Regions from separate parts of the Homo sapiens genome. Here region 1 is linked to region 2. The links come from fine-mapping of genetic effects on gene expression. Tissue or cell type: whole blood. Region 2 holds a variant in brackets; the other region holds the start of a gene. All regions are shown on one strand. Distances are from middle to middle.

Region 1 (4,167 bases), 140 kb before region 2:
TAATAACATTAACGTCTGAATTCTCATTAGAATAATGGAGGCAAAAAGACAGTGCGATAATACGCTTTAAAATGCTCAAAGGAAAAAAAATGCCAATCAAGAATCCTATATTCAGCGGGTAGACATGTCGAGAACAGACCAGTGTGCTAAGGCGGGTGAGGAGCACTGAGTTAACCCCCAGCGTACTGGCGTGGGGACTGTGTGCGCTCACTGGACCCGCTACTGAACAGGTCACAGACGCTGGCCCCCTCAAAAGGCGCCAGAAAAGGACCCTTCTGGACCAGCCTGGATACACTGCCTGAGCTGCTCCTCTAGGGCGAGGGGTGACTCCCCTGTGCCAGGGGCAGCGGAGGAAATGGGAAAGTGGGATGCATAAGACTAGGTGGGTCCTCCCATAGGACATGGGTGACTGAAGAGTCACAGTGCAAGAAGACGTAAGAAGTTCAGACCCAGGCCGGGCACGGTGGCTCACGCCTTTAATCCCAACACTTTGGGAGGCCGAGGCAGGTGGATCACCCGAGGTCAGGAGCTCCAGACCAGCCTGGCCAACATGGTGAAACCTCGTCTCTATTAAAAATACAAAAATTAGCCGGGCATGGTGGCGGACGCCCTGTAATCCCAACTACTCCGGAGGCTGCGGCAGGAGAATCACTTGAATCCGGGAGGCGGAGGTTGCAGTCAGCTGAGATGGCGCCATTGCACTCCAGCCTGGGCGACAAAAGCGAAACTCCATCTCGGAAAAAAAAAAAAAAAAAAAAAAAAAGAAGTTCCAGACCACCAGGCCGGCCATGGTGGCTCACGCCTGTAATCCCAGCACTTTGGGAGGCTGATCCGGGTGGACCCCCTTGAGGTCAGGAGTTCGAGAACAGCCTGGCCAACATGGCGAAACTCTGTCTCTACTAAAAATACAAAAATTAGCCAGGGGTGGTGGTGCACACCTGTAATGCCAGCCACTCAGGAGGCTGAGGCATGAGAATCGCTTGAACCCAGGAGGTGGAGGTTGCAGTAAGCCGAGATTACACCACTGTACTACAGCCTAGGTGACAGACCGAGACTCTGTCTCAAAAAATAAAAATAAATAAATAAAGAAGTTCCAGACCAGGAGCCATACACTTAGTGTTTGAACCAAACTCTCTCATTACTGGTCATAGGGCTTTGAGAATCCTTAACCTTTCTGACCCTGTTTTTTCATCTTTATAAACATGACACCCAACTTCTTCACATGGTGGTCAAGGGAACCAAATGAGACCATGTATGTGCACGTACCTAGGCGATGGGCAAGTGCTAGACCAGCGGTTCTCAAAGTGTGGTCCAAAGACACCTGAGGGGGTCCCTGAGACCCGTTGAGAGGGTCTGCTTGGTCCTCCCTTTCCCAACTAATATCTGCATCTGCATGAGCCCAGAATTTCTTTCAAATATTTCCTTCAAAACAGCTGATATGAGACTCCAGCTGTCCTTTATTAAACCAAAGAAATTTTCAAAAATATAAAAACCATGAGCCAATCTTCTCACTTTTTTTTTGAGAAGTTATGCATTAAAGTGTTATTTGTATTAAAAGTTAATGGGTTTGTTATTAAGTGAATATTTTTTAAATTTCTGGTTTAATTCCTCATGCACAAAAATCAATAGATATAAGCAAAAGCTTTGGGGGGTCCTCAAATTATTTTTAGACGTGTAAACGGGTCCTGAGACCAAACCGTTTGGGAACCGCTGTGTTAAACGAACCGCAGGTGTTCTTCACCAGGCAAGCCGCCTCTCAAAGACTGGCGCGTTCACGTTTGCCATTTGGGGGAGGCAGGCAGTTTTGTTTCCTGGGGCTGAGTCCAGGTAATTCGACCTAAGGTGTGTACCCATTTTCCGGGTGCAACGAGGGCCCTCCCAAAGGGAGGCGCGGGCGGCAGCGACCTTGGACGAGGTCGAGCCAGCGCGTGGGAGGCGCATGGTGCTTCCGTCCGGCTGGGTTCCCGTGAGGGCTTGGGGAGGCCGCGCCCGGCCCGCGGGGCTGCAACAGGAGCCGACCCGCGGCGAGCCGGGCCGGGAAGGCGGGGAACGGGGACCTGCACTCACAGCCTCAGCAGCGCCGCCGCCGCAGCTCCGCGCGCCGCCCTCCGCAGCAGACGTAGCGCCATCTTCCCGACGCGCGCGCCCCGCCCTTTGCCTTTAGCCACGCCCACCCCACATTCCACGCCCCCACGGCGACACCGACCCCCCCCCCGTCCCAGGCCCCGCCTCGCTCTGTCTTCGCCCCGCCCCGTCCCGCCAGCCACACCCCGCCAGCCACGCCCTCCTTCCTCCCAGCACCCGCTCCGCCCCGCGGCGAGTCCCGAGGTCAACTGCCCTCCCGGCCAGGGCTTAGGACCTTCGTCCCCGCTGTCATGGGGGACAGAGCAGAGGATCTGAATGGTTGGGGCCTCTTTGAGGGGCCTCTCTGGTGACCGAATCCAACTCTCTGAGCTTCTGAGTTTTTGAGGCAACTGTTGACAGACTGCGTTTTCCCAGCCAGAAGAGCCAACATTTCTAGGGATTTCTTCGCAGCTTTTGTTGTTAAAATACCGCCTAATACTTTGTGAGCCCCATCATGTGCATATCTTGGTTAGCAATTAATCTAGAGTGGTCAAAGTGCAGGAAGGCTGCATCCTGGAACACACATGCCTGCAATAGGTCAGAGCAGCTGTTGGCACTCTCTGGGCAGGGAAACTGACAGCAGCTCTTTACTCTGCCCCCTGCAGCCGTTCTGCAGCGGTGAGAACGCCGAGGCGTTAAAACAGGCTGGGCCCTGCCCCTGCCTCTTCTTTCACCTTCCCTGATCCAGCCGGCCTCCACCTGCCGACCTTCACCTACCCGGGCCCATGTTACCCCTTAACCATGTCTTTTCCTTGGCACTCGGCATGTTTCTTTTTCAGCTGTGACTCCGTTCCATTCATGCTCTAGACTTAAACCTGAAACCGTTTCTCAGAACCTTCCAGTGGAAGCTGACTTGTGCTCTTGGATGCAAAAAGTGGCCGTTTAAACAAACAAAAGCCTTTTCAGCCAGAGGGGGTTCCAAGATTTGGAAAAGTCCAGGTGACTGGGAACATGGATGCTAAACTTCTGCTGAGCCTAAGAATTATTGTTATATTCGATACCAACAGGGGAGACTGCTCAACCCCTTGGTGCCCTCCCCCAGCTCCCACGCCTGCTCCACCTCAGGCCTCGCCTGTCTACTCCAATTTGGTCACTTTCTTGTCACCACCTTAGTCCCAGCCAGTGCCCGGTCCAGCCATACTGAAGCCTGAGGCAAAGGCAATTTCAGTAACACCAATCCTGTCTTTAATTAAAATTTTGATATTTTGTTCATAATGGGATTTTTCCATTATCTTGGTTTTTAGTTTAGAATATTACTTTTTTTTTTTTTTTGAGACAGTCTTGCTCTGTCGCCCAGGCTGTAGTGCAGTGGCACGATCTCAGCTCACACACTGTAACCTCCACCTCCTAGGCTTGAGTGATTCTCACCCCTCAGCCTCCTGAGTAGCTGGGACTACAGGCAAGTGCCACCACTTCCAACTAATTGTTTTGTATTTTTAGTAGAGATAGGGTTTCACCATGTTGGCTAGGCTGGTCTCGAACTCGTGGCCTCAAGTGATCCATCCGCGTCAGCCTCCCAAAGTGCTGGGCTTACAGGCATGAGCCACCATGCCAGGCCAATATTACTTATCTTTTTTTTTTTTTTTTTTTCTGAGATGGAGTCTCGCTCTGTCGCCCAGGCTGGAGTGCAGTAATTACTGAGACTTCTCCTTAAATTTTGCATCCCAGGCTGGGGCTGCACTCACCTCACTCAAGTCTGATTCTGGACATCATCATCCTTTACCTGGATTATTTCAAAGCCTCCTTGCTCCCATTCTTCCCTCCTACAATCACCCGTTTGCCATAAAACCTGGCTGACCTTTTAAAAGCATGACGCAGCTCCTAGTTCCAGAGTTGACTTGCTGTGTGACTTTGGTCAAGTTTCTTAAGCTCTCTGTTTCCTCATCTATAAAATGGGGGTATAAATACCTCATCACCTCATAGGCTTGTTATAATGATAGACTGAGTTTACATATACATAGAGAGAGACTGCACACTTAAAATCTAAGCAAGTTCTCAGTAGTGTTAACTATTCCTCATTATTATTGTCATTGCATCGCTTCC
Region 2 (4,167 bases):
TAGCTTCCCTGGCCTTTCTCCCCACTTCTGCCCATCGGTCATTACCTACCTCAGGACCCTCTAGTCATTATCGTGGAGAGGGGGACAAAGGAGGAAAATGCAGGTAGTTGAACCTGAGAGATGGTGCCAAATTGTCTTTTAATAACAGTTTTTTCTTCGAAACAACACAGAAATGCATGTCTGCACACAACAGGGACAGGATCCAGGAATTAGGAAGCCCCAACAAGAGTGCCAGGGGCACCCCAGAAAACCAGACACAAGGCTATGGCTGACCTTCTAACCTTCTCACTTCGTAAAAACAGAAGAGAACAAGTTCCTTCCTCAACTTGATACGTTAGCGTTTCTTGTAAATACATTTCCTGTGTCTAGTTCATCTTACTTTATAAACACAGACATCTGCTTTCAGTTTTGTTAAGAATGTGCTAAGAAATTCAGTTGAAAAACGCAATAAAGGATCCACAGAGGTCTGTCCTCACAGAACGAATCAGTGTTCAAACTAGTTCTGGAGGGAGACATTCAACATAGAGATGCCACAGGGCTACAAGCCAGCATTCCTGCTCGCTGAAGAAAGGCAACACTCGACACCCATGACCATCGATCCCATCTATTGGGGTGGAGGGTGGGGAATGCCTTCCATTACAGACTCAGTGTGACCTGTCTTCCCCGTCCTCCCATGAGGAGTCAGAGCCTTGGGAAGATGCCTGCAGAGTCATCACCACTGCATCCTCATCATGACCTGTATCTGTAGATTTTTCTCCCTTCAAGTACTATAATTTCCCACTGAACTCCGCTCTTTCTATTGGCTGACATACAGTATGTGCTTACTATGTGCTAGACATTGTACTAAGCAGTTTACATGGATTATTTCACTCTATGCTATTAGGGAAATAGTCTTATTGTGTCCATTTTACAGATGGAAAAACTGAGGCTGTCGATGGATGGATGGATGGATGGATGGATAGATAGATAGATGAATGGTGGGTAAAGCTGAGATACAAACCCAGTCTTAACCATTAAAACTGCCTTTATGAATAATAATGTAAGACAAAATAAATTTGAACTTCTTTAATTCAAGTCTACTGATCGATAGTGATAAGTATAAAATAATAATCATATCAAACACTTATAACAATCTTATAAGATAGGAGCCATAATCATAACTGTTTTACAGAAATGCCTAAAGTATTACTGGCCCTTTCAATGAAACCACATGCAGAAGAAGGAGAAACATACACAGACACACAGGCACACAGAACAGAAGCAGTCACATGTGCATTTGGAGCTGGATGCAGAAGTATACTTACAGGCAGAAGCAGATTGCCTTAGGTTGAGCTGTTGTAACAAAATACCATAGACTGGAAGGTGTTAACCAGGTGGATAGATTATCCCTCTATCCATAGATGGCTTAAGGAACAGACATTCATTTCTCATAGTTCTGTAGCCTGGGAAGGTGCCAGCAGATCTGCTTCTTTTGAGAGCTCTTTCCTGGCTTGTAGACAGCCACCTTCCTGCTGCTGTGTGCTCACATGGCCCTTCCTTGGTTTATGTAAATGGGAAGAGAGAAAGCTCTGGTGCCCCCACTTATTATAAGGGCACTAATTTCACCATGTGGCTCCCATCCTTGTGGCCTAATCTAGGCCTAATTACCTCTGAAAAGTTCCACCTCCAAATGTCATCATATTGTGGGGTAGGGCATCAACATATACATTTTGTGGGGGATACAAACATTTAGCCCATAACATAGATCTTATGCGGAAATCACAGAGGGATAGCTACACACAGAAAGTGGATCCTAATCATCCATCCATCAATCCACCCTTCTATCCATTGATTCATATGGTCACTTACTTACCCACACATCTATCCATCCATCCATCCATCCATCCATCCATCCATCCATCCATCCATCCACCCATCCACCCATCCATCCACCCACCCATCCATCCACCCATCCATCCACCCATCCATCCACCCATCCATCCACCCATCCATCCACCCATCCATCCATCCATCCATCCATCCACCCATCCATCCA[TCCACCCATCCATCCAC/C]CCATCCATCCATCCATGCAATTAATGTTTGTTTGTTGTGCATCGCCCTGAAGCCAGCGAGACCACGAACCCACTGGGAGGAACGAACAACTCCAGACGCGCCGCCTTAAGAGCTGTAACACTCACCGCGAAGGTCTGCAGCTTCACTCCTGAAGCCAGCGAGACCACGAACCCACCAGAAGGAAGAAACTCCGAACACATCTGAACATCAGAAGGAACAAACTCTGGACACGCTGCCTTTAAGAACTGTAACACTCACCACGAGGGTCCGTGGCTTCGTTCTTGAAGTCAGTGAGACCAAGAACCCATCAATTCTGGACACGGCATGATCTCAGCTCACTGCAACCTCTGCTTCCTGGGCTCAAGCAATTCCCCTGCCCCAGCCTCCTGAGTAGCTAGGATTACAGGTGTGTGCCACCATGCCCAGCTAATTTTTGTATTTTTAGTAGAGACGGGGGTTTCACCATGTTGGTCAGGCTGGTCTCGAACTCCTGACCTCATGATCTGCCCACCTCGGCCTCCCAAAGCGCTGGGATTACAGGCATAAGCCACCTTTCACTACATATTCTGAAAGCTTAAACACCTGAGAGAACTCAGAAAGAAAACGCACATGGATTGAGAACAGCATTAAGTTCTTTCCCAATAAGTTATTTCCCAATTTATCTGCATTTGTCTGAGTAAAGAAATACATTTCTAGTTGCAAAGTGAAATTATAAGCAGGTTCTTTCCCTTCAAAATGATTTTTCATCCTTCCAAGAGCCAGTGGGAAAATATGGGAAGAATTCATTTCCAAACAAGGCAGTTAAAGGTTACAACTTCTAACCATCAGGAGCCAAAGCCTGCTCATGCATGCTGATGGTGGACAGGGATTCAGGGGTCCTCAGGGAACTCATGTCCCCCCTCCTCTGGTCAGTGGAGGATCATTGCATTGACCAGCGAACCTCAGCAGTTTCAATGTAGCAATGCAGATGTCCATGGGCTGTGCTGCTGAGATGGCCTTTGGGTCTTCCCTCTTATGAGAGGGCTGAGTGTGGCCCTTATCCTTCTAAAGAGAGGTCTACAAAGCAGCGGGGCTGGGGTTACAAATTCATAGAGAATAGGCAGACAACTATGGGCTGGAGATGTCCAGGAAAAAATATCCACTGGCCATTTAAAATACTAAGCCAGGAGCCAATCACATATTTATATTAAAAATAGCAAGCTGCCCAAATCCAAATGATTTATTGCAATCAAGTTGCAACAGCAGACTTCCTACCTGGAGATATCAAATACTTAGTGGGTTATTTAAGTAACCAAAGCAAAAAAGTCTCATTACAAACAGGTATTTATTATGTGGACAAAGGGGTATTGTCCTTGCACTCTCTTATTAAAATACTCTTCAGTGAAATAGTTATCATTAATCCCATATCATAGATGAATAAACTGAGGTTCAGTAAGTTAAGAAGTTTACTCAGTTGTTTTAAACATTTGTCAAATCAGATGACTCCCTTCTCTGAAATAGGCCTATTTTTTTTCTCTCTCTCTCATGGAAAGATTTAAATTACACATAAATTGGGAGAATATACAAGAACTCTCCACGTACCCATCACGCAGGCATAACAAGCATCAAGTCATGGGTCTCTCTCTGTCACCCAGGCTGGAGTGTAGTGGCGTGATCATGGCTCATTGTAGCTTTGACCTCCTGGGCTCAAGCAAGACTCTTGCATCAGTATCCCAAATAGCTGAGACTACAGGCACATGCCACCATGCCCAGCTAAGTTTTGTAATTTTTGTAGAGACAGGGTTTTTTCATGTTCCCAGGCTGGTCTCAAACTTCTGGGCTCAAGCAATTCTCCCACTGTATTAGTCCATTTTCATACTGCTATAAAGAACTGCCCGAGACTGGGGAATGTATAAAGGAAAGAGCTTTAATTGACTCACAGTTCAGCATGGCTGGGGAGGCCTCAGGAAACTTACAATCATGACAGAAGGTGAAGGGGAAGCAGGCACCTTTTTCACAAGGCAGCAGGAAGGAGAAGTGCTGAGCGAAGGGGAAACAGCCCTCTAAAATGCCCTCAGATCTTGTGAGAACTCACTCCCTATCACGAGAACAGCATGGGGGAACAGCCTCTTGCAT

What was found. PIP is the estimated chance that this variant, and not a neighbour inherited with it, causes the effect.
Region 1: CLYBL starts here. The variant in region 2 is fine-mapped to the expression of CLYBL in whole blood (INTERVAL, PIP above 0.99).

The regions. Positions count from the first base shown.
Region 1 is chr13:99,604,658-99,608,824 of GRCh38, reverse strand. It overlaps CLYBL (citramalyl-CoA lyase), which reads right to left and starts at 2,135. Exons shown (of 9, transcript NM_206808.5): 1 at 2,068-2,135. The coding sequence starts at 2,129. LOC105370332 (a long non-coding RNA gene) reads left to right here and starts at 2,976. Exons shown (of 3, transcript XR_931674.3): 1 at 2,976-3,063. RefSeq lists a silencer at 1,795-2,354 and enhancers at 2,076-2,370, 2,293-3,272.
Region 2 is chr13:99,460,930-99,465,096 of GRCh38, reverse strand. No RefSeq gene overlaps it. Among named protein-coding and RNA genes, the nearest start is that of LNCARGI, 30 kb to the right of the region's middle. The variant TCCACCCATCCATCCAC/C (reference allele first, on the strand shown) is at 2,036.